Linked DNA regions of Homo sapiens. The protein of the gene in region 1 purifies or fractionates together with the protein of each later gene. This does not show direct contact. Each region holds a gene or a part of one and is shown in the gene's direction. Other genes may lie near its edges.

What was found.
Region 2: the proteins of PRXL2B (region 1) and NUCB1 purify together in Homo sapiens (affinity purification with mass spectrometry; 3 studies listed by BioGRID and IntAct, with this or other methods). This does not show direct contact.
Region 3: the proteins of PRXL2B (region 1) and BCAT1 purify together in Homo sapiens (affinity purification with mass spectrometry; 2 studies listed by BioGRID and IntAct, with this or other methods). This does not show direct contact.

The regions. Positions count from the first base shown.
Region 1 is NC_000001.11:2,581,803-2,589,776, forward strand, and holds the start of PRXL2B (prostamide/prostaglandin F synthase), read left to right. Parts: upstream 1-4,974; 5' UTR 4,975-4,993; coding exon of another isoform or gene 4,994-5,083; coding exon 5,084-5,146; intron 5,147-5,288; coding exon 5,289-5,493; intron 5,494-5,938; coding exon 5,939-5,990; intron 5,991-6,533; coding exon of another isoform or gene 6,534-6,587; coding exon 6,588-6,651; intron 6,652-6,727; coding exon of another isoform or gene 6,728-6,747; coding exon 6,748-6,823; intron 6,824-7,119; coding exon 7,120-7,238; intron 7,239-7,607; coding exon 7,608-7,625; coding exon of another isoform or gene 7,626-7,677; 3' UTR 7,678-7,974. UniProt on the Homo sapiens protein: Catalyzes the reduction of prostaglandin-ethanolamide H(2) (prostamide H(2)) to prostamide F(2alpha) with NADPH as proton donor. Also able to reduce prostaglandin H(2) to prostaglandin F(2alpha).
Region 2 is NC_000019.10:48,903,269-48,910,371, forward strand, and holds part of NUCB1 (nucleobindin-1 precursor), read left to right. Parts: intron 1-1,078; coding exon 1,079-1,186; intron 1,187-2,484; coding exon 2,485-2,617; intron 2,618-7,103. UniProt on the Homo sapiens protein: Major calcium-binding protein of the Golgi which may have a role in calcium homeostasis. Acts as a non-receptor guanine nucleotide exchange factor which binds to and activates alpha subunits of guanine nucleotide-binding proteins (G proteins).
Region 3 is NC_000012.12:24,876,000-24,883,102, reverse strand, and holds part of BCAT1 (branched-chain-amino-acid aminotransferase, cytosolic), read left to right. Parts: intron 1-1,691; coding exon 1,692-1,802; intron 1,803-4,453; coding exon 4,454-4,573; intron 4,574-6,148; coding exon of another isoform or gene 6,149-6,175; intron 6,176-7,103.

The DNA.
Region 1 (7,974 bases):
CTCCGACTCAACAAGACGCATTAGTTAAAAGATCTAATATATGCGTATGGGGCTTCCCAGAATAAGAGGAAGGAAGGAAGGAAAGAATGAGACATCATAAGATAGTGTTAAAAAAAAAAGAATTCCCAGCCGGGCACGCTGGCTCACGCCTGTAATCTCAGCACTTTGGAAGGCCATGGCGGGTGGATCACCTGAAGTCAGGAGTTCAAGACCAGCCTGACCAACATGGTGAAACCTTGTCTCTACTAAAATACAAAAGTTAGCTGGGCATGGGTGGTGGGCACCCGTAATCTCAGCTACTCCAGAGGCTGAGGCAGGAGAATCGCTTGAACCCAAGAGGCAGAGGTTGCAGCGAGCTGAGATCGAGCCGTTGCACTCCAGCCTGGGCAACAAGAGCAAAACTGCATCTCAAAACAAACAAACAAACAAATAAAATAAAAGAATTCCCAAACTGATTAAAGATACCAACCCACAGACTCAAGAAGCCTAGTAGGACTTCTGCTGCTGGCCACGATGCTGCAACTTGTCAATGTAAAATAAACAACAGAGAGACTGGCTCTCCCAAATAAAGTTTACTGGGGGATGGCAGGGGATTGCAATCTGGGATATGCATGCTGAGGGGGACCGTAGGTGTATCTTTCTTTTAGGGGTGGGAAGAGGAAGTCTACACAGATTGTTTTGGAATAAACCTCCCTGGGTACAGGAGCTTATTGCAGGGTTGGTGATTACTCATGGGTAACATGATTGTTGCGGGGGAGATGTCTTCATAGGAGCAGCTGATCTGGAATGTTGTGTGCTGTCGGAGTCCCTGTAACAGTTCTCATCATAGGCACCCGAGCATGAGGGACCTTCCGTTGAGGCCTCCCAGCTCCGTTTTGCTTGGGTCCTGACATAAGTGACTCTGCCTTAGTATTGACAATTTTCACACAGTGGAGCCAGTTTCCCCCATTTGTGCCCCCTCCCCCAGTTCATATGCTGAAACCGAATCCCTAATGTGATGACATTATGAGGTGGGGCTTCGGCATGTGCTTAGGTGGGTAGTGAGGGTGGAGCCCTCGGGAATGGGTTAGTGCTTTTATTTATGTATTTTATTTTATTTTGAGACGAAGTCTCACTCTGTCGCCTAGGCTGGGAGGCAGTGGCATGATCTTGGCTCATTGCAACCTCTGCCTCCCAAGTTCAAGTGATTCTCCTGCCTCAGCCTCCCGGGTAGCTGGGATTACAGGCATGCTCCACCACGTCCAGCTAATTTTTGTATCTTTAGTAGAGATAAGGTTTCACCATGTTAGCCAGGCTGGTCTCGAACTCCTGACTACAGGTGATCCGCCCACCTCGGCCTCCCAAAGTGCTGGGATTACAGACGTGAGCCAAAACACCCGGCCAAAGTTAGTGCCTTTAAAAAGGAGGCCCCCCAGAGCCCCCTCATGCCTTCCACCCTGTGAGGACACAGCATGAAGAAGTGATCTAGGAACCAGGAAGGGGTCCTCGCCAGACCTTGAATATGCCGGCGCTTTGATCTTGGACCTCCAGCCTCCAGAAATGTGAGAAATCAATTTCTGTTCTTTAGAAGCCACCCCATCTATGACTAAGACACCCTCCCACCTTCATGCTACTGAGTGGACAAGCTTACATGAAATGACTGTTTTCACATATGTGGCACCAGGCAGCCCAGGGATGCCGGTGAAATCTCTGGGTAAGTCTCTTTGGCCTCTGGTACTGGCAGCTTCTCCTGTTAAGAGGGCAGTCCTCCACGAGTGTCTCGTGCCCCCCACCTCTCACAGGGTGTGCCAGGAATGCAGGCCCTGAGTACCCTCCCCCATTTCTCAGGGTGGTTTGCCCTGAGAGTCCTCTAGGGACAAAGAGCAGCTTGCTCACTGCTTGCTGCAGAAACAGCTGACTCCCCCAGTGCAGGGCTCCTCAGTGGCCACGCAAACCTACTGACTGTGCAGTGCCCACCCAGGCCTACCCACATGGCACCCGTGGAATTTGGGGGCAAGGGGATAAGACCAAACACACAGGTGAGCACCTGCCTGCCACGCCATGAATGAAAAAGTCCTTTGTCTCTGACCCCGGAGTTTCACGTCTTCTGTCAGCATCCCTGCTGCGGTAACGGGCCAGCTCTTCCTTTGTAAGGAAAGCTAAAACCCAGTCCCAGAGCTGGCACCACCTGGAGGAGGAAGTGCTCTTCCCTGCCCCTCCTTGGCCATGTGACTTGCTCTGGCCAGTGACATGGGAGTGCAAGCGACACATCCCAGCTGTGCATGGCCGCTGGGAGAGTGTGGCATGGTTTCTCCATCTCTCCTCCATGTCCTCCCTTGTCAGGAGAACGGCATGTTCCAGAGAGCCACAGCTTGCTCAGCCTGGACCCCAGAACGAAGGAGGCATCAGAAGCTGAGCCACCCGTGGCCGACAAGAAACCTGAGTGGGAGGGGAAACTTGGTTGCTGTGATCGACCCAGGCTTGCGAGTTGTTTTGGCAACACAGCCTAGCAAGAGCCGACCAATATGTCATTGATGAAAGAAAGTCAACAGGCGTGTAGAAGGAGCTGTCTACTGAGCATGTCTGCACTTTTCTGAATTATGTTGCACTTGAGTAAAAAGTAAGCAAGCCTGTCTATTTACTTTAAATGATGTGTGCCAGATATGTACAGTATGCAGAGTTAAGAAGGTGCCACCCCAAAATAGGCTGCTCTGGCATAGTCACTATTAGGAATTAAAGGCAGTTAAAACAATAACAGGTGCAAAAAGATCATTCTGATCTCTCTTGTGTTTCTTAAAAGCAGAAGATGAAATTCCCAGGTGAAAGATGCTCTCCCTACACTAGAAAGCTCTGATCCTCAAGGATGAGAAGCTGAGACCCAGCAAATGCTGTACAGTCCCTGATAAAATGCCTCTCACCTTTTCAGCCCCCCACATCATCTAGCTGCTTCCTCAAACCTCACTGTTCTCTGTCCAACTCAGCACACGACTGAGTCTGCTTCACTGGGTCTTCACTTCCTTAGGAGGGCTCCTGAGCCACATCCAACTTTAATCAAATACACTGGCATGATGATCTGTCTTATCTTGATTTAACTCTTGGGCCCAGCCAGGACCTCAAAAGGATGGAGGTGGAGTTTTTCAGCCCCTACATATGCAAACACACACATAGCATGTATCTGAGCGGCCACATGGGCTGGCCCTGCTATTTTCTTATGGCTTCTCAGCCTCCCAGCCACCTTCTGCTCTGCATCACTGGAGCTGGGAGGCTGCAAGCTCCTTTCCCACTCTCCTCTGCCCGTTGGCTTCCAGTGAGGCTCCTGCAGCGATGGCGTTGGTGGGAGATGCCAGGCGAGGAATTGATCTCGCATTCTCGTTTCTGGGAACGTCTCTGAAAATGGCTGAATCCCGTCTGGGATCCCAGCTCCCAAGGAGGCGGCAGCTTGCTCACTGCTTGCACAGCCCCAGACGGCAGAGGGGCCCTCTCCTGCACAGCCTGAGACAGTGGAGGGGCCCCCTCCTGCACAGCCCCAGAAGATAGAGGGGCCCCCTCCTGCACAGCCCGAGACAGTAGAGGGGCCCCCTCCTGCACAGCCTGAGACGGTGGGGGGGGGCCCTTCCTGCCCAGCCCCAGATGGTAGAGGGGCCCCCTCCTGCACAACTCCAGAGGGTAGAGGGCCCCTCCTGCACAGCCCGAGACGGTAGAGGGGTAGCCCTGGTCTCTGGGGGCTGCACTCCTGGGCTCTGGAGCTGCCACAGCTCCTCCCTCCTAGTGCTTCCCCTTCCTTGTTTTGCTTTTTGCCCTTTCTGACATAGTGACGACTTCCGTTTCGCAGTCTGGACCTTCACCACCCCAGGGCGAGGGCACAGGCGAAGCAGCAGCACCCCCCCGGGGCCTCTCTTTATTTGGAATACAGTGTGGGGGCTCCCCCTTCCTTCTCCAGCCCGCCCAGGCCCCTGGAGCTGTCCTGGGGCCTGGGGAGTGAGGACCCGTGCCAGCAGCACAGACTCTGCCAGGCCGGGCCCGCTCAGGTGGGAGCCCAGGCCGGGTGAAGCTGTGACCCGGCCCTCACCCCAACTCGGTGACAAAAGCTATCACAGGGCTGCAGTGGGGGAGGAACAGGACGCATCTGCCAGGCACCTGACCCGCAGTGCACTTCTGGGAGCTGTGCTTATCTCCCCGGGGTCTATTTCGCCCCAAGGTTTGGCGGGTTAAAAGCTGATATGCAACCGGCACGACATGAACAGTATTTCATGATTAAAGACATCGCGTCCATGTATAATTGAGATGCTGCCGCATTTGCGGGGATTTTCAAGCGAAAACCAGGCCACGTGGAAAGGCTAAGCCCTCGCACCCCCCCGCCCCCCACTGCTGGGACCCCCGCCCCGCGGGAGACCCCGGCCCGCGGTCCCCTATGCCCGCGACCCCTGCGCTCACCCTCTCCCCTCAACCCTGAGTCCAGCCCAGTCTCGCGCGAGGCCGCAGGGAGACCCCCGCCGCTCCCTGGACCACCCCTGGGCCCACCGTACCCAGCCGCTCCCCGGCGCCCCCCGGGACGACCCCGAGCCGGCTGCCCGCCTCCCGCCGCATTCCGCACAGGCGCACCGCGCACCGAGGGCCGCACCGCCCAGCTCCGCCTGCTGCGCCAATGGCCGACGGGGTCCAAGTCGGCGGCCCAACGGAGAGGCGGGGCTAGGGGCGGGACCAGGACGCGGGACAGCAACTGTCCCGCAAGGCCCGGATTGAGGAGGCGGGAGGGACCGAAGCAGGCGGACCCAGGATTTGGCGCCGCGATCTCGAGGCTTGGCCTGGAGTAGGAGGGGAAACAAGGCGGGACTAGGGGCGAATCCGAGGGGGCGGAGCAGGGCTCGGGGTGCGGTCGGGGGCGTGGCCGGGGCGCGCTGCGGCCATCTTGGGGGCGGGCCCGGGGCGGAGACGAGCCCGAAGGGGCGGGGCCTCGGCGGCAGCAAGAAAGGCGGGACCGGGGCATCTCGGGGCGGGGCTTGGGGCTGGATCTATGAGCCGGGAGCGGGGATCCAGGAGCGAGGAGCCGGGAGCGGGGAACAGGGAGTCGGGGAGCCGGGAACCAGGGCTGGCAGCGGCCGCCATGAGCACGGTGGACCTTGCTCGCGTGGGCGCGTGCATCCTGAAGCATGCGGTGACCGGGGAGGTGAGGCCGGGTGGACGCAGGGCGGTGGGCGCGTCCCTGGCTCCTTGCCCGGGCGTCCTGGCAGCGATGGGGTGGTGGGGGCCGCGGGGCCTGGGCGGGGCTGGGGGCAACGGGGCGCGCCCATGACCCAGCCGCCCGGCAGGCCGTGGAGCTGCGGAGCCTGTGGCGGGAGCACGCGTGCGTGGTGGCCGGGCTGCGGCGCTTCGGGTGCGTGGTGTGCCGCTGGATCGCCCAGGACCTCAGCAGCCTTGCTGGGCTCCTGGACCAACACGGCGTGCGCCTGGTGGGCGTAGGGCCCGAGGCCCTGGGTCTGCAGGAGTTCCTGGACGGCGACTACTTCGCGGGAGGTGCGTCCTGTTCCCCGCCGCGGCGGCGCACATACCCTTCCCTAAGCTCAGGGCGTTCGGGGCCCTTTCCTGCCCAACCCCGGCCCTTCTGTCTGCTGGAGCGGCCTTGATATGCCCACGGGTCAGCGTCCCTCATCTCTCCCTGCCTCCCCGCCCCGCAGCTGGTGGCTGGGTGGTGCCCTGCACAGACCTGGGCCCAGCAGCAGAGTCTGGACGAGCTCTGCCCCGCCGGCTCCACCTGTTGCCTCTGGGACTCAGCCCCTCTTCTGAGGGGAGGGGGGACACTCAGCCCCGTTTTACCCCTCCCTGCCCTGCGGGGGTGGGCTGAGCACGGAGGGTGGGCAGAGGAACAGAGGGTCGGAAGGAGGAGGGCGATTCTTTGTGGTGAGTGGGTTGGGGGCTGGTTCTGCGCCTGGGGCACACACATGTGGCTTCCGCTTTCCAGAGCTCTACCTGGATGAGAGCAAGCAGCTTTACAAGGAGCTAGGCTTCAAGCGGTGAGTGGGGGCGGGAACCCTTGGGTAGCGTGGGGTGGGGGGCCCAGGGGTTCCCACCGCTCCCTGCCACCTCCTCTCCCTGCTGCCCTCTGTGGTGCTGTCCACTCGGGCCTTCCTGGGCAAGGCGGCTCTGGTGGCACTGTTGACCAGCCCTTCTGCCAGGCCTTCTCTTGGGTGCTGGGTGACTGTAATGAGCCACCTCGTCCGGGGCTTACTCTCGGTGTCCAGACCACCTCGTGGGGTGGAGCCTCGTGGCCCATCAGGGGCCATCCTAGCTTTCTGGTGTCTGTGCCACAGGCTGCTTCCTTTGCTTGGCAGTTGCCAGCTGAGCCAGATCCCTGGGCACACCCAGCCTGGGGCCCCATCCATGCTCCCTGCACCCTCTGTGGACCCTCGGCTAGCAGCCACTGGGCTCGGTGTCCAACCTGCCGGTGGGCTGGGCTGGCTACTGATCTGGTCGCCTGTGCCATCTCTGAGCCCTGGTGAGGCGGGTGGGTGGGGTGGGGCCTGACCTAGGAACTGGTCTCATGGACACTGGAGCAGGCTCTGGACCCAGGCTTCTCCGGAGTTTGGCCAAGCGACCTGGTGTCTTCGCAGGTACAACAGCCTGAGCATCCTCCCAGCAGCTCTGGGGAAGCCCGTGCGTGATGTGGCTGCCAAGGTGTGTGCGGGTCAAGGGTGTACAGGCCGGGGGGTGGTGGGAGCTCCCAGGAGCCTTTCTTCTAGGATTGACTCAGGCTGTACCCACTCCTGACAGGCCAAGGCTGTTGGCATCCAGGGGAACTTGTCTGGGGACCTGCTGCAGAGCGGAGGGCTGCTGGTGGTCAGCAAAGGTGGGTCGAGGGAGGGGCCTCGGCCACTGCCTCAAGGAGGGCCTTGCTGAACTTGGTGGCCCAGCCCAGGCCCTCTCTCTGGCTTGTCAGTCTCATCACAGCCCCTCCGCCGCAATGTGGCCTGGTTCTGCGTGTCTGCTGGGCTGAGTGGGGCTGTGGCAGAACAGCTCACTCATCTGGGTAGCCGGGTGGGGGATATGGCTGGCCAGGGCTGCCCTACCCTCCCTCCTCCTGGTATGTGGCTGTGAGGTGCAGGCGGCCTCCGGGGTGCCGTGACTGCCTGCCCGCTGCTACAGGTGGTGATAAAGTGCTCCTGCATTTCGTCCAGAAGTCCCCAGGCGACTACGTCCCCAAGGAGCACATCCTGCAGGTCCTGGGCATCTCTGCGGAGGTCTGTGCCAGCGACCCGCCTCAGGTGAGCTGGGCCTTGGGGGCGCTGCCTGCCAGCCCACGCCCTGCCCCTAGGTCCCCTGGGAGGAGCACTCGGCTTGGCTGGGAGCTGAGCCACAGCGCTGTGGGCATCATGCCAATTGTGCCCTGGGATATGGATGCCACTGTGACCCCACTTGCAGAGTGGGGCAGGCTGAGAGGGGCCGAAGGGCAGCATGGCTGGATGGACAGGCACCTTGGGACTGTCCTCAGAGGTGGGGGCGACACATGGGGTGGCGGGCAGAGAGGCGTGTCCTCTCAGCCTTGGGAGGGCTGGGGATTGTCCAAGGGGGCCCTCCAGGCATTTGTCTGATCCAGTGTCCAGCGGCCCCATGGGACCCTGCTGTCCCCACAGTGTGACAGAGAGGTGTGAGGGAGGCGAAGGCCCTGGCCTCCGAGGATCTGGGTGGCGTCTGCTGCCCTAGGTGTGCTGGAAGTCCACTTGGAAGAACTGTTCCGGAGGCGCTGGGTCGGGATGCCGAACCTCTCCTGATCCGCCGGCAGCAACGAGCCATTAAAACTGCAGTTCCTGACCACGCACTGCTTCGCAGGCTCCGAGCCCTGCATCCTCCACAGCCCCCGCCTTGCTCACTGTTGGGCCCTCAGGGCGGGCAGGGTGGCTGTGAGTCCCAGGTGTCATCTTCCTGCTCTGCGACTTTCTCTGGAGACCTTGGGCCTTTGGCCTGTGGGGCACTGGGGATGGTAACCTCACTGCCCCGTCA
Region 2 (7,103 bases), on another chromosome or scaffold:
TGGGACTAGGAGGCCTGGGACTTTTGTCTGTGTTGTTCACAGTGCCTGGCATATGATAGGGGCCTGGTGAATGTTTGTTGAATGAATGAATGCATGCATGGGCGGGTGGGTAGATGGATGGGCAGTTGGATGGATGGGCGGGTGGATGGATGGGTGGGTGGATGAGTGGATGGATGGATGGATGGGTGGTTGGATGGATGGGCGGGTGGATGGATGGGCGGGTGGATGGATGGGTGGGTGGATGAGTGGATGGATGGATGGGTGGGTGGATGGATCGATGGGTGGGTGGATGGATGGATGAGTGGATGGATGGGCGGGTGGATGGATGGGTGGGTGGATGAGTGGATGGATGGATGGACGGGTGGTTGGATGGATGGGCGGGTGGATGGATGGGTGGGTGGATGAGTGGATGGATGGATGGGTGGGTGGATGGATGGATGGGTGGGTGGATGGATGGATGAGTGGATGGATGGGCGGGTGGATGGATGGGTGGGTGGATGAGTGGATGGATGGATGGATAGATGGATGGATGGATGGATAGGTGGGTGGATGGATGGGCAGGTGGATGAGTGGATGGATGGATGGATGAGTGGATGGATGGATGGATGGATGGATGGGTGGGTGGATGGATGGATGGGTGGATGGATGGATGGATGGGTGGGTGGGTGGATGGATGGATGAGTGGATGGATGGGTGGATGGATGGATGGATGATGGGTGGATAGATGGGTGGGTAGGATGTATGTATGGATGGGTGGGTGGGATGTATGGATGGATGGGTGGGTGGATGCATGGATGAATGGGTGGATGCATGGATGGATGGATGGTTGGATGGATGGATAAAAGTATGATTCACAGCTTCCCAACAAGTCATGTCCACTCTGAGCACCCACTCTGGGCAGTATTGGGCTGGGTGTTCACTGATGTGATTTTCATTTCATCTTTGCTGCATATGTGGGAAAAGGTAAAAACTGAGTCCCTTGTCAGCTGCCCCAGGGAGCAGGCCATAGCAGTAACAGGAGTGAGGGTGGGGATGGGGATGGGAGCAGGGGCTGCTATGTCTGTCCTTGTTGCCTCAGGACACAGGCCTGTACTACCACCGGTACCTCCAGGAGGTCATCGATGTACTGGAGACGGATGGGCATTTCCGAGAGAAGCTGCAGGCTGCCAATGCGGAGGACATCAAGGTGCGGCTGGGGGAGTGGGGGCTGTGGGAGGGGTACGTGCTGGGAGGGCAGAGTTCAGGGGAGGACTGGTTTCTTTTTTTTTTTTTTTGAGACGGAGTCTTGCTCTGTCACCCAGGCTGGAGTGCGATGGTGCGATCTCAGCTCACTGCACCTCCACCCCGCAGGTTCAAGCAGTTCTCCTGCCTCAACCTCCCAAGTAGCTGGGATTACAGGCGTACACCACCATGCCTGACTAATTTTTGTATTTTTAGTAGAGACGGGGTTTCACCATGTTGGCCAGGCTGGTCTCGAACTCCTGACCTCGTGATCCTCCCATCTCGGCTTCCCAAAGTGTTGGGATTACAGGCATGAGCCACCATGCCTGACCATACTGGTTTCTTCAAAGGGGCCACATGGCTCCAGCTGTGCCTGTATTTGAAAATCACCAAAGTAAGACTCAGGGAGAAGTTGCTTCTTGGGGTCACAAGCTGGGAAGAGCTTTGGGGAACACAGAATACGTGTTTAGTGCAGAGTCCCGTGGGCAGGCTTTCAGTCGCAGCTCCGCCGCTTACCAGCTATGGGGCCTCCCCTCACCGTGCCTCAGTTTCCCCACCTGTAAAATGGGAGACATCATAGAACCTGCTGCACAGTTCGGATTTGGATTTTCCAAGGGAAGGATTTTGGGGTTTGGATTTTCCAAAGGAAGATGTGTAAAGGGTTTGGAAGAGCATGGTGACACTCCTTAGCAAGTGTTGTGGGAGGGCTGCGTCAACAGAATGCTCCTATGGTGCCTTCTACAGAGGAAGAATTCAAAATAAGGGAGGTGCTGGTGTCCCTTACATCACCATGAACTCCCATATCAGGCCTCTAGGAGCACCATCATTGTCCCCATTTCACTGAGTAGGACACTGAACCCTCGTATCAGGATCTGTCCTTCTCATGGACCTGGGTCTCACCACCATGCACGGCTAATTTTGTATTGTTTCTAGAGACAGGGACTTGCCATGTTGCCCAGGCTGATCTTGAGATCCTCCCACCTCAGCCTCCCAAAGTGCTGGGATTACAGGCGTGACCCACCGCACCTGGCCCCTAAACATGTGGCTTGATGAATGACAGGAGATGGGGCAGCACAGGTGGGCAGGGCCTTGAATGCCAGGCTGACGGGCTGGGAGCTGTCCTTCCTGGAGACTCTGAGGAGCTGGGGGACTATAAGCAGGGAAGGGGCAGTATAAGACTGGGGCATGAGAAAGCTTATAAGAAGCTTCCAGAGAAGACAGAGAGCAGGCCCCCAGGCTGACCAGGGTCTCCTCTCCTGTCAGAGCGGGAAGCTGAGCCGAGAGCTGGACTTTGTCAGCCACCACGTCCGCACCAAGCTGGATGAGCTCAAGCGACAGGAGGTGTCACGGCTGCGGATGCTGCTCAAGGCCAAGATGGACGCCGAGCAGGATCCCAGTGAGCAGGGGCAGGGCGGGAGGGACAGGCAGGGAGGGGTGGGGAAGGGTGGCCTCACTCCCGGCCTCCAGGTGGTTGTGTGCTAGGCAGGTGAGGCCTCCCTCCCCGCTGCGAAATGTGCTGAAATGTGCGTGGGAGATTGCCCCAGTGTTCCTCCCAGCATGATTTAATATTAACATTACAATGTTGTTTGTTTATATTCTGTTTCCATTTGTTGTTTTTAAAAATCTTTATCATGGGCTGGGCACAGTGGCCCACGGCTGTAATCCCAGTACTTTGGGAGGCTGAGGCAAGCAGGTCACCTGAGGTCGGGAATTGGAGACTATCTGGCCAACATGGTGAAACCCCATATCTGCTAAAAATACTAAATTAGCCGGGCATGGTGGTGCACGCCTGTAATCCTAGCTGCTCAGGAGGCTAAGGCAGGAGAATTGGTTGAACCCGGGAGGCGGAGGTTGTAGTGAGCCGAGATCGCACCATTGCACTCCAGCCTGGACAACAGAGTGAAACTCTGACTCAAAAAAAAAAAAAAAAAATTGTCATTTAAAATTCTGGTAGAGGCCGGGTGCAGTGGCTCACGCCTGCAATTCCAACACTTTTTGAGGCAGGAGAATCACTCGAGCCCAGAAGTTCAAAACCAGCCTGGGCAACATAGCAAGACCCCTGTCTCTATAAAAAATATTAAAAAATAAGCTGGGCATGGTAATGCATGCCTGTGGTCCCACCTCCTTAGGAAGCTGAGGTGGGAGGATCGTTGAGCCTGGGATGTCAAGGCTATAGTGAGCCATGACTGCGCCACTGTACTCCAGCCTGGGCGACAGAACAAGATCCCATCTCAAAAAAAAAAAGTTGAAAGAACTTCAAACTTTTAGAAAAGTTGTAAGAGTAGTACAGAAAACTCCCAAACACCCCTGACCTGGCTTCTCTAGTTAACATTTGCTCCATTTGCTTTGTCACTCACGTTTGGGACTTCACCACAGTCACCATCTCATCACCCTTACACATTTCAGTGTGATACTCTTGCATAAGTACAGCGATAAAATCGGGAGATTTATCAGGTCACACTGTTTTTCCTTGCTCAGCTAATATCTTTCTTTTTTTTTTTTTGAGACAGAGTCTCGCTCTGTCACCCAGGCTGGAGTGCAGTGGTGCAATCTCGGCTCACTGCAAGCTCCGCCTCCTGGATTCACGCCATTCTTGTGCCTCAGCCTCCCAAGTAGCTGGGACTACAGGCGCCCGCCACCATGCCCAGCTAATTTTTTGTATTTTTAGTAGAGACGGAATTTCACTGTATTAGCCAGGATGGTCTTGATCTCTAACCTCGTGATCCGCCCACCTCGGCCTCCCAAAGTGCTGGGATTACAGGTGTGAGCCACCGCGCCTGGCCTTTTTTTTTTTTTTTTTTGGTGAGACAGAATCTTGCTCTGTCTCCCAGGCTGCACTACAGTGGCGCGATCTCGGCTCACTGCAACCTCCGCCTCCTGGGTTCAAGCAATTCTCCTGCCTCAGCCTCCCAAGTAGCTGGGATTACAGGTGTGTGCCACCACACCTGGCTAATTTTGTATTTTTAGTAGATACTTGATTTTGCCATGTTGGCCAGGCTGGTCTTGAACTCCTGACTTCAAGTGATCCTCCTGTCTCGGCCTTCCAAAGTGCTGGGATTACAGGCCTGAGCCACCAGCCTTGGCCCCCATCTTAAGGTCTTTAATGTAATCCCATCCGCCAGGACCCCTTAGCCCGGAAAGGTCACGCATTCACAGGTTCCGGGGATCAGGATGTGGATATCTTTTAGGGCACCAGTATCCAGCTGCCACAACACCCAGGCTCTTCCCGTCCCTCCTCTGCCCAGAGCCTGCCCCCGGCACCCCAGTGCCCTCAGGCCCGCATTCATGTTCCTCTTGTCTGCTCGGAGCCTGGGTGGACCTTGGCCACACCCGCCCAACCCTGCCCTTCCCGTATGCACCCTGACCTTCTTGCGTCAGCATTTTTAGAAATTGCTGGCGTGCAGCCTTGGGACCTTTGTCCGTTCGCCCCGCTCTCCCGTGACATTCTTTCTCAGGGCTCTTTGCCTGGTCCATGGACCTTCCATCTCCCCTGGAATGTCACCTCCTCAGGGTGTCACCGCCCCGGCTGTCCTGTGTGAAGGAGCCTCTGTGTTATTTGTGTCCTTGGTATTCCTTTGTTCATCCCTTGGTCGCCTGTTCTCTGTCTCTCTAGACTGGGTGCTCCAAGAGGCAGAACTCTTTTGGTTGTTGTTGTTTTTGAGACAGAGTCTCACTCTGTCGCCCAGGCTGGAGTGCAGTGGCGCGATCTCGGCTCACTGCAACCTCTGCCTCCCAGGTTCAAGCGATTCTCCTGCCTCAGCCTCCTGAGTATCTGGGATTACAGGTGCCCGCCACCATACCTGGCTAATTTTGTATCTTTAGTAGAGACAGGGTTTCACCATGTTGGCCAGGCTGGTCTCAAACTCCTGACCTCAGGTGATCCACCCGCCTCAGCCTCCCAAATTGCTGAGATTACAGGCATGAGCCACCCCGCCTGGCCTCCAAGAGTCAGAATTCTGTCATCATTTGATTCCTGCTGTGTCCATAGCGGCCGGCGCTGGGTCAGCCTGGAATAGCGGCTCAACACACGTCCCTGGCACAAATAATGAATTTGAGATTCAGTTTGTACCTGTGTCCTGCACACCTGTCACTCCTCTGGGCTCAGCCAGGGCCGGAGCTGCCTCCACTGCAGCCTAGGTCTCCCAAATTCTAGCTGCCCGTGTGTGTGTGTGTGTGTGTGTGTGTGTGTGTGTGTGTGTGTGTGTGTGTCTTTCTGCCCACTTGACCAAGGGGTGTGTGTGTGTGTGTGTGTGTGTGTGTGTGTGTGTGTGTGTCTTTCTCCCCACCTAACCAAGGGCCACTGGAGGCCAGGGCCAGGCTGATTCATTTTGGGTCCAGCATTGCACAGCGCAGGCCTGGGCCCCTAGAAGCCTCGGGAGACATGCGTGCGGTAAGTGTGTGTTGGCAGCGTGTGCGCTGTCCTTTCCTGCCTGGAAACCCTACCCCTTCCTGACTACTTGGAAACTCCCATATGAGGGAGGCTGCACTTGTTTGCTGAGGCCGCTGTAACCAAGTACCACTGACCAGGTGCTTCAGCAACAGAACTTGACTGTCTCATGGCCTGCAGTCAGAGTCCAAAGTGAAAGTATTGGCAGGGTTGGTTCCTTCTGGGGCTATGAGGGAGGATCTGTACCAGGCCCCTCTCCTTGGCTTGCAGATGGCCGTCTTCTCACTGCATTTTCACACCATCTTTCCTCTCTGTGTGCCTGGCCCAAATTTCTCCTTCCATTATTATTTTTTATTAATTATTATTATTATTATTTTTTTTTTTTTCCAAGACAGAGTTTTGCTCTCGTTGCCCAGGCTGGAGTGCGGTGGCGCGATCTCAGCTCACTGCAACCTCTGCCTCCCAGGTTCAAGCGATTCTCCTGCCTCAGACTCCTAAGTAGCTGGGATTACAAGCACGCGCCACCACGCCTGGATAATTTTGTATTTTTAGTACAGATGGAGTTTTGCCATGTTGGGCAGGCTGGTTTCGAATTCCTGACCTCAGGTGATCCACCCGCCTTGGCCTCCCAAAGTGCTAGGATTACAGGTGTGAGCCACCGCGCCCGGCCTATTATTATTTTGAGACAGGGTTTCACTTCTATCCTCCAGGCTAGAGTGCAGTGGTGCGATCTCGGCTCACTGCATCCTCCCCCTCCCACGCTCAAGTGATTCTCCTGCCTTAGCCTCCTGAGCAGCTGGGACTACAGGCACACACCACTGCACACAGCTAATTTTTATATTTTTTGTAGAGATGGGGTTTCACCATGTTGCCCACGCTGGTCTCGAATGCCTGAGCCCAAGTGATCCTCCCACCTCAGTCTCCCAAAGTGCTGGGATTACAGGCATGAGCCACTGTGCCCAGTCATAAATTTCTGCCTTTTATAAGGTCACCAATCATGTTGGATTAGGGCCCACAGTAATGACCTCATCTTAACCTGATTCCCTCTGTAAAGACCTAGTCTCCAAATCAGGTCACATTCTGAGGTACTGGGGCTTAGGACTTCAACATAGAAACTTAGGAGCGTGCAATTTAACCCCTAAGATTGGTTGATGCTTTATCAAAAATTTTGATGTTTTTCTTTTGTTTGTATGTATGTATTTATTTTATTTATTTATTTTTCAGACGGAGTCTCACTCTGTCACCAGGCTGGTGCAGTGGCGTGATCTCGGCTCACTGCAACCTCCGCCTCCCAGGTTCCAGTGATTCCCCTGCCTCAGCCTCCCAAGTAGCTGGGGCTACAGGTGCGCACCACCATGCCCAGCTAATTTTTTATGTTTTTATTAGAGATGGGGTTTCACCATGTTGGCCAGGATGGTCTCAATCTCTTGATCTTGTGATCCGCCCCCCTTGGCCTCCCAAAGTGCTGGGATTACAGGCGTGAGCCACCGCACCC
Region 3 (7,103 bases), on another chromosome or scaffold:
GTTGTCCAGGCTGGTCTCGAACTCCTGACCTCAAGTGATCCAACAGCCTTGGCCTCCCAACGTGTTGGGATTACAGACGTGAGCCATCACACCCAGCCTTGAAGTTGCCTTTTTTATCTTCAGTAGTGCTTCTTGGCTTAAATTCTTTTGTTTTATAAATAGTAATGGAAGCTTGCCAGTTTTATTTTAGAAAGTATTTGCAGGCCAGGTGCAGTGGCTCATGCCTGTAATCCCAGCACTTTGGGAGGCCGAGGCAGGCACATCACTTGAGCCCAGGAGTTCGAGACCAGCCTAGGCAACATGGCAAAACCTCGTCTCTACAAAAAATACAAAAAATTAACTTGGGCGTGGTGGTGCGCGCCTGTAGTCCCAGCTACTCTGGAGGCTGAGGTGGGAGGATTGCTTGAACCCAGGGGGTAGAGGTTGCAGTGAGCCAAGATCTTGCCACTGAACTTCATTCAGCCTGGGTGACAGAGAAAAACAACTCTGTCTCAAAAAAAAAAAATAAATAATAAAAAATAAAGTATTTGCATGATATATCTTTTTCTGTCTTTTTGATTCAGATATTGTCAGCTGAGTCCAATCTAACAAACTTATATTTTAACCGAAGCTTTAGTACTGTTATATTTAATAAACTAATAATATATTTGCACTTAAATACAACATCTAATTTTATGCTTTTTAATTATACATGATTTGTATTTCTTTTTTTCCCATGTAAGTTTTTAGGGTATACATCTTTAAAGGCCTTACTTTTCATTATCGTTCAGTTTAACTTATTTTCTAATTTCCATTTTTCTTCTGTGACCTATGGTTTAGTTAGTGGTGGATTTATTTTCCAAAATATGGATGGTGTCCAGTCAAACTTTTGGTATTGATTTCTGGCTTATCTTGTGTTTGGAAAATATGTGAATTCTACAGCTGGTCTGTGTAAGAGTTCTCTGTATCAGTTAGGGAAGTTTGTTCTTCCTGTTGTTCATATCTTGCATATCTTTACTAAGGTTTAGCCTGTTTGTTCTATAAATTACTTAGAGAAGCTGTGTTAAATTTTCCCACTAAAATTATTGATTTTTGTCTTTCTCTGTATTTATCAGTATGTATCTACTGAAGTCTTTTCAAATCCCTGATCAGTGGTTTGTTCAGGACAGCACTTTGATTGAGGGAGGTGACGTGGCTTAACATAGTATGGTCTTGAGCTGCCTGGTTTCTGTGATTTAGGGACTGAACCAGCTCTGGTCACATCTGGATTATCTACTATCCAGCATTCAAATGAACCAGATTACATGAAAGGATATGGGGGTACTCTTTGGGGGCCACGGTGCCACAAGGCCTTTGGTTTCGATCTCCATTGCCTAGGGAATTAACCTGTGCTGTGTGATTCTAGATGTTTTCTTCCTGCTCCCTTAAATAACACCTAAATGTGTTATTCAGCAGTGTGGCTCCTGCTAAGCAGAGGAGAACTCGGAATTCCTACCAAATTCTGATAATAAAATAACTTTCCTCCACCTCAACCATTGTTTTTACCAGTCCTGTCAACTGTTAGCTTTCCTGGATTTAATGATCTCAAGTTGAGGTCAATGTCAACAGCTTTATGGGATGAATAAGATGAACGCCCATAGGAAAGTCAGTCTCTTGAACACGGGTTGTTTTCTTTTGGTTACCCTCTAAGATTTTTTCTCTTTGATCTCCAGTTATTTGAAGGATTGAAGGCATTTCGAGGAGTAGATAATAAAATTCGACTGTTTCAGCCAAACCTCAACATGGATAGAATGTATCGCTCTGCTGTGAGGGCAACTCTGCCGGTATGTAAGTGTAGGAGTTTCTTTTGTGTTTCTTTTAATGTAACGGGTCACGGTGTTGACCACCAAATAAATAATTTCTGAATAGTTAGATAAATATTCAGTACAAACCATATGAACATTAACATTATTTCTGATCTACTTTAGTTAGGTAAAAATACAAGAAAATGGCCGGGCACGGTGGTTCACTCCTATAATCCCAGCACTCTGGGAGACTGAGGTGGGTGGATCACTTGAAACCAGGAATTGGAGACAAGCCTGGCCAACATGGTGAAACACCATCTCTGCAAAAAATACAAAAATTAGCCGGGTTTGGTGGCACATGCCTGTGGTCCCATCGGTGTGGCTGAGGCATGAGAATTGCTTGAACCTGGCAGGTGGAGGCTGCAGTGAGCCAAGATAATCACATCACTGCCCTCCAGCCTAAGCCGCAAAGTGAGACTCTGTAAAAAAAAAAAACAAAAAACAAAAAACCCAAGAAAATAATATCATTTGGCAATTCCACAATTTTTTAAAATCAGTGTCTGTGGGGGATTCATATGCAAGTGAGAGATGAAAGAGTAAGGAAGAAAAATGTATCTCAACCTAAAATAATATTTGAAGACCACATGAAATTAATATTGAAAATGGAAAATATGGTGTGCAGCACAGGTATTTTGCGGATATTTTGCCTAATTGCTTTAGATGCTAGCAAGATATAGTAACTTAATTATTTTGATATTTTATCTTAAGTAATGTTTTGAGATAAAAAGATATCAAAATGGTTTCTCATGGCCATTGAATCGTGGCTGTCACAATGTTTCTTATGGAGCAGAAATCATTGTAAGATGGGTTAGATTTTTTTTTTGAGAGAGAGTCTCACTCTGTCACCCAAGCTATAGTGCAGTGGCACAATCTTGGCTCACTACAACCTCCACCTCCGGGGTTCAAGTGATTCTTGTGCCTCAGCCTCCTTAGTATCTGGGATTACAAGTGCACGCAGCCATGCCCAGCTTAATTTTTTTAAAAATTATTTTTAGTGGAGACATGATTTCACCATGTTAGCCAGGCTGGACTTGAACTTCTGGCCTCAAGTGATCTGCCTGCCTCAGCCTCCCAAAGTTCTGGGATTACAGGCATGAGCCACCGTGCCCAGCTTCAGGGATTTAGCCCAACCTATGCATTCAGGAAGCCTGAGGACGGCTAAATCCAAGTGTTCTTCATTCCTCTGCCTATTTTTGTAACCCGCATTTCACCCATCTCCTTTGGAGGCCATAATATAGTAGCAGAGGGGAAATTAAGGTAAATTCTTTGGACTAGGGCATAGTTTCGCTCTTCTTCTCATTACAGCTAGATCACTGGGGAAAAGTCTTTAAAATGGGGCTGGAAGGAAAGGGAAGTAATATTTGTTAGACATCAATTTTGCTACCAAACTGTGTTATGTAGTTTCACATTCCTTATCTGTGTAATCACAGCAGTAAGGCGTTGCTAAGAAGATTATTTGTTGTACAGTTTATTAGTGCCTTTGTACAGAGAAGAAAACTTGAGTCCAGAGAGATTAAATGACTTGTCTGAAGTCACAAAGAGCAAAAGGACAGGGCAAGAAATTAGATCCAGGTGTTTTTATTCCTGGTCAAGTTCTCTTCTCACTGAATTCTGTCTCTAGACAGCAATACCAGGGGCTGAGGCAGGTGCTACAGGGTTCACCTATATGATTGGCAGTCCCAATTTCTATAACATTACTACATTATTATTGCTGTTACAGGTCAATATTTAAATAGACAAATTCTGACTTCATGAGCTTTACTCAGATGCTTATGACTGACTCATTTCTACCTTAGGTGACCCATCACATCTCTGAAAGTATGTTTCTCTACTTTGCAAGTGAGCAGAGACTAAATTATTTTATGAAGTATCACCCATCTAGTAGATGTAATTTTTTTTTCTTTAGAAATAAAGTGCTCTTTGCTTTTGCCCATTTTCCTATTGGGTTATCTATCTCTTCATTGACTTTGGGGATATCCAAATATATATACCAGTTAAAATTCTTTGTTGATCATGCTACCAATAACTTCACCCAGTTTGTTGCTTTACATCTTTTGAAGAACGGAAGTCTTTAAGTTTCAAATAGTCACATTTTATCCATTTTTTTCCTTCATGATTTGTGTTTTACATCTCCTACTTAAGAATCCTTTCCTACCTTAAGGTCACAGAGATATTTTGTACTTTTTAAATAAAGTCTTAGTATTTTGTCACATTTAAGTATATCATCTAATTAGAATTGATTGGGGGGTATGGTAAGATGTAGGGATCTAATCTTATCTTTCACATGTGGATAGCTCGTCATCCCATCACAATTTTTGGGGGGAAAATCAGAAAAAATTGTTTGGTTTTATTATTACTTTAAAATTTTTTTTATTGGTACCATAAATTATACATATTTATGAGGTACACTGATGTTTTCATGCATGCATATAATGTGTAATGATTAGGACAAATAAGAAAGAAATAAATAAAAATTAGGATAATTAGGATATCCATCACCTCAAACATTTCTTATTTTTTTGTGTTGGGATTATTAATTTTTTAACAGTTTAAATGCTTCAGTGAGGATCATTTATTATTGCCACATTGTGAGAAAATTCTGTCATTTATTATGTTTTTCATTCTTTCAGGTATTTGACAAAGAAGAGCTCTTAGAGTGTATTCAACAGCTTGTGAAATTGGATCAAGAATGGGTCCCATATTCAACATCTGCTAGTCTGTATATTCGTCCTACATTCATTGGAACTGAGGTGCAAACTGACTCTTTATTTTGGGGTACTTTGCTGGGCAAGTTATTATTGTTTATTGTTGTTTGAAACTTCTAGCATATAGTTTGCAGTAGCCCCCCAGTAGCATCATTAATGACTTCTTCCTTCTGATTGTCAAGATTAGAGGTAGCAAACATTTTCTGTGAAGCGCCAATCAGTAAATATTTTTTGGCTTTGTGGCCATATAGTTTCTAATAAGAAATTAGATCCCTACCTCTTACCATACCCCAAAATCAATTATAATTCGATTATATACTTAAATGTGACAAAATACTAAGACGTTTATTAAGAAATACAAAATATCTCTGTGACCTTAGGTAGGAAATGATTTTTTTTTTTTGAGGTCTCTCTCTGGTTTTTTTTTTTTGCCCACGTTGTCGCTTAGGCTGGGGTGCAGTGATGCAATCACGGCTGACTGCAGCTTTGACCTCCTGGGCTCAAGTGATCCTCCTGCCTCAGCTTCCCAAGTAGCTAGTACTACAGGCATGTGCTACCATGCCTAGCTAATTTTTAAATTTTTTGTAGAGATGATGTCTCACTCTGTTGTCCTGGCTGGTCTCAAACTCCTGGCCTCTAGCAATCCTCCCACCTTGGCCTCCCAAAGTCCTGGGATTACAGGCATGAGCCACTTCACCTGACCGGAGAGGATTCTTAAACTCTGCCATTTTAGTACTAAAGCAGCCATAGACAGCACATAAATGAGTAAATGCAGTGCTGTTTGCCTTGCCCAATTAAGACTAGTCATTATTTTCTAAGTTTACAAGTGCAGTGCCTCCCATTGTGGCAGTACTTCTCTGAGGTAGAAATGGTTTTAAAATTTAGGGGAGGGAGAGCTGCTAATTTTCATTTTCATGAGGTCTTGGGATTACTTGGCATGGAGTGAGAATGGAGGTTCCCCTTCCCACATAGAAAAATGGTGAAAATAAAGTTCACAGTGGGAGTTAAGGAAGGAAATTGAAGAGCTGGGATGGTAGGTTTAAATAACATGACCTTATGATTTCCTGGTGGGTCACAGTCTCTTGGTTGGGTGCCCTTGTGAATAAAGGCATGGATTGGGCATGCCTGGAGGGGCCAAGGCCTTTTGAGCGGACGAGTATGTTTATATGAAGACCCTGTCACCTGTCTCTGGTATCTGCTAGGCAGCTGTGGCTTGAGAGTGTGATATTGAGGGATAATTGATGGAAGGAGATTGAATGTGGCTGGCAGGTAAAGAGATAGGGAACATATGGAGATATTTAGAATAAGAGAGTGTGAGATAGAGCGCTTTTGCTATAGCCTAGCCATTCTGTTCTCTACTAAGTGTTGCGGGGTTACCAGGTTTTCTACTAGGCTGTATGAATGCAAAAGGTAGAGAGATATATAGGGCCATGGAATAAATACCGAAGTGTTTTCTTTGGTATCCTTGATACCTTTCGAAAGCCGTGTAAGGATCTAGATAATGAATTTCGTGAATTGCAGTCTCTCTGACAAGTTTTAAAGAATAGGAACAATTTTAAAAAGTCATCTACTTCCATAAGTTTTTTGACATTTTAAGATAATTGAATTTTTTTTTTTCAGCTTTTAAGTTCCAGGGTACATGTGCAGGTAGGTGTGTTATATAGGTAAATGTAAGCCATGGTGGTTTGCTGTACAAATCAACCCATCACCTAGGTATTAAGCCCAGCATCCATTAGCTATTCTTCCTGATGCTCTTCCTCCTCCCGCCCCTTCCGACAGACCCTAGTATGTGCTGCTCCCTGCATGTGCCCATGTGTTCTCATTGTTCAGCTCCCACTTATAAGAGAACATGCAGTGTTTGGTTTTCTTTTAATATTATTTTTAACTTTATGATAGGAAGGAGTACTTTTTAAAGTTGGTTGAAACATTGTTACTGATCTCAAAGCACTACCTTCCAGTTATTCTGAGATACTTTTTCAGTCTAAGATCTGATACTCCTATTCCTGGTTTGTTGAGAGTTTTTGTCATGAATGGATGTTGGATTTTGTCAATTGCTTTTTTTGAATCTCTTGACATGATTATGTGGTTTTGTACTTTATTACATTATTAATGAATGAATTATATCAATTTATTTTTGGATGTTAAATCAACCTTATTTTCCTAAGCTAAATCCTACTTGGTCATTGTGAATAATCCATTTTTTTATCTTGCTATATTCAGTTTGCTAATATTTTAAGAATTTTTGTTTCACTGTTCATGAAATATATTGATCTAGTTTTCATTTTTCTTTTCTTTCTTTTTTTTTTTTTTTTTTACATCTCCCTCCTCTTCCTCTTGATCTAGTTTTCTAATACAGCTGCACTCCAACTTACGATGGTCCTACTTAGGAGTTTTTGACTGTATGATGTTTGAAAACAATATGAGTTTAGTAGAAACTTACTTTGAGTACACATACCATTCTGTTTTTTTGCTTTTAGTACAGTATTCAATAAATTATGTGAGATAACCAATACTTTATTATAAAATAATACACTTTTAGATGATTCTGCCCTACCATAGGCTAATGTAATTGTTC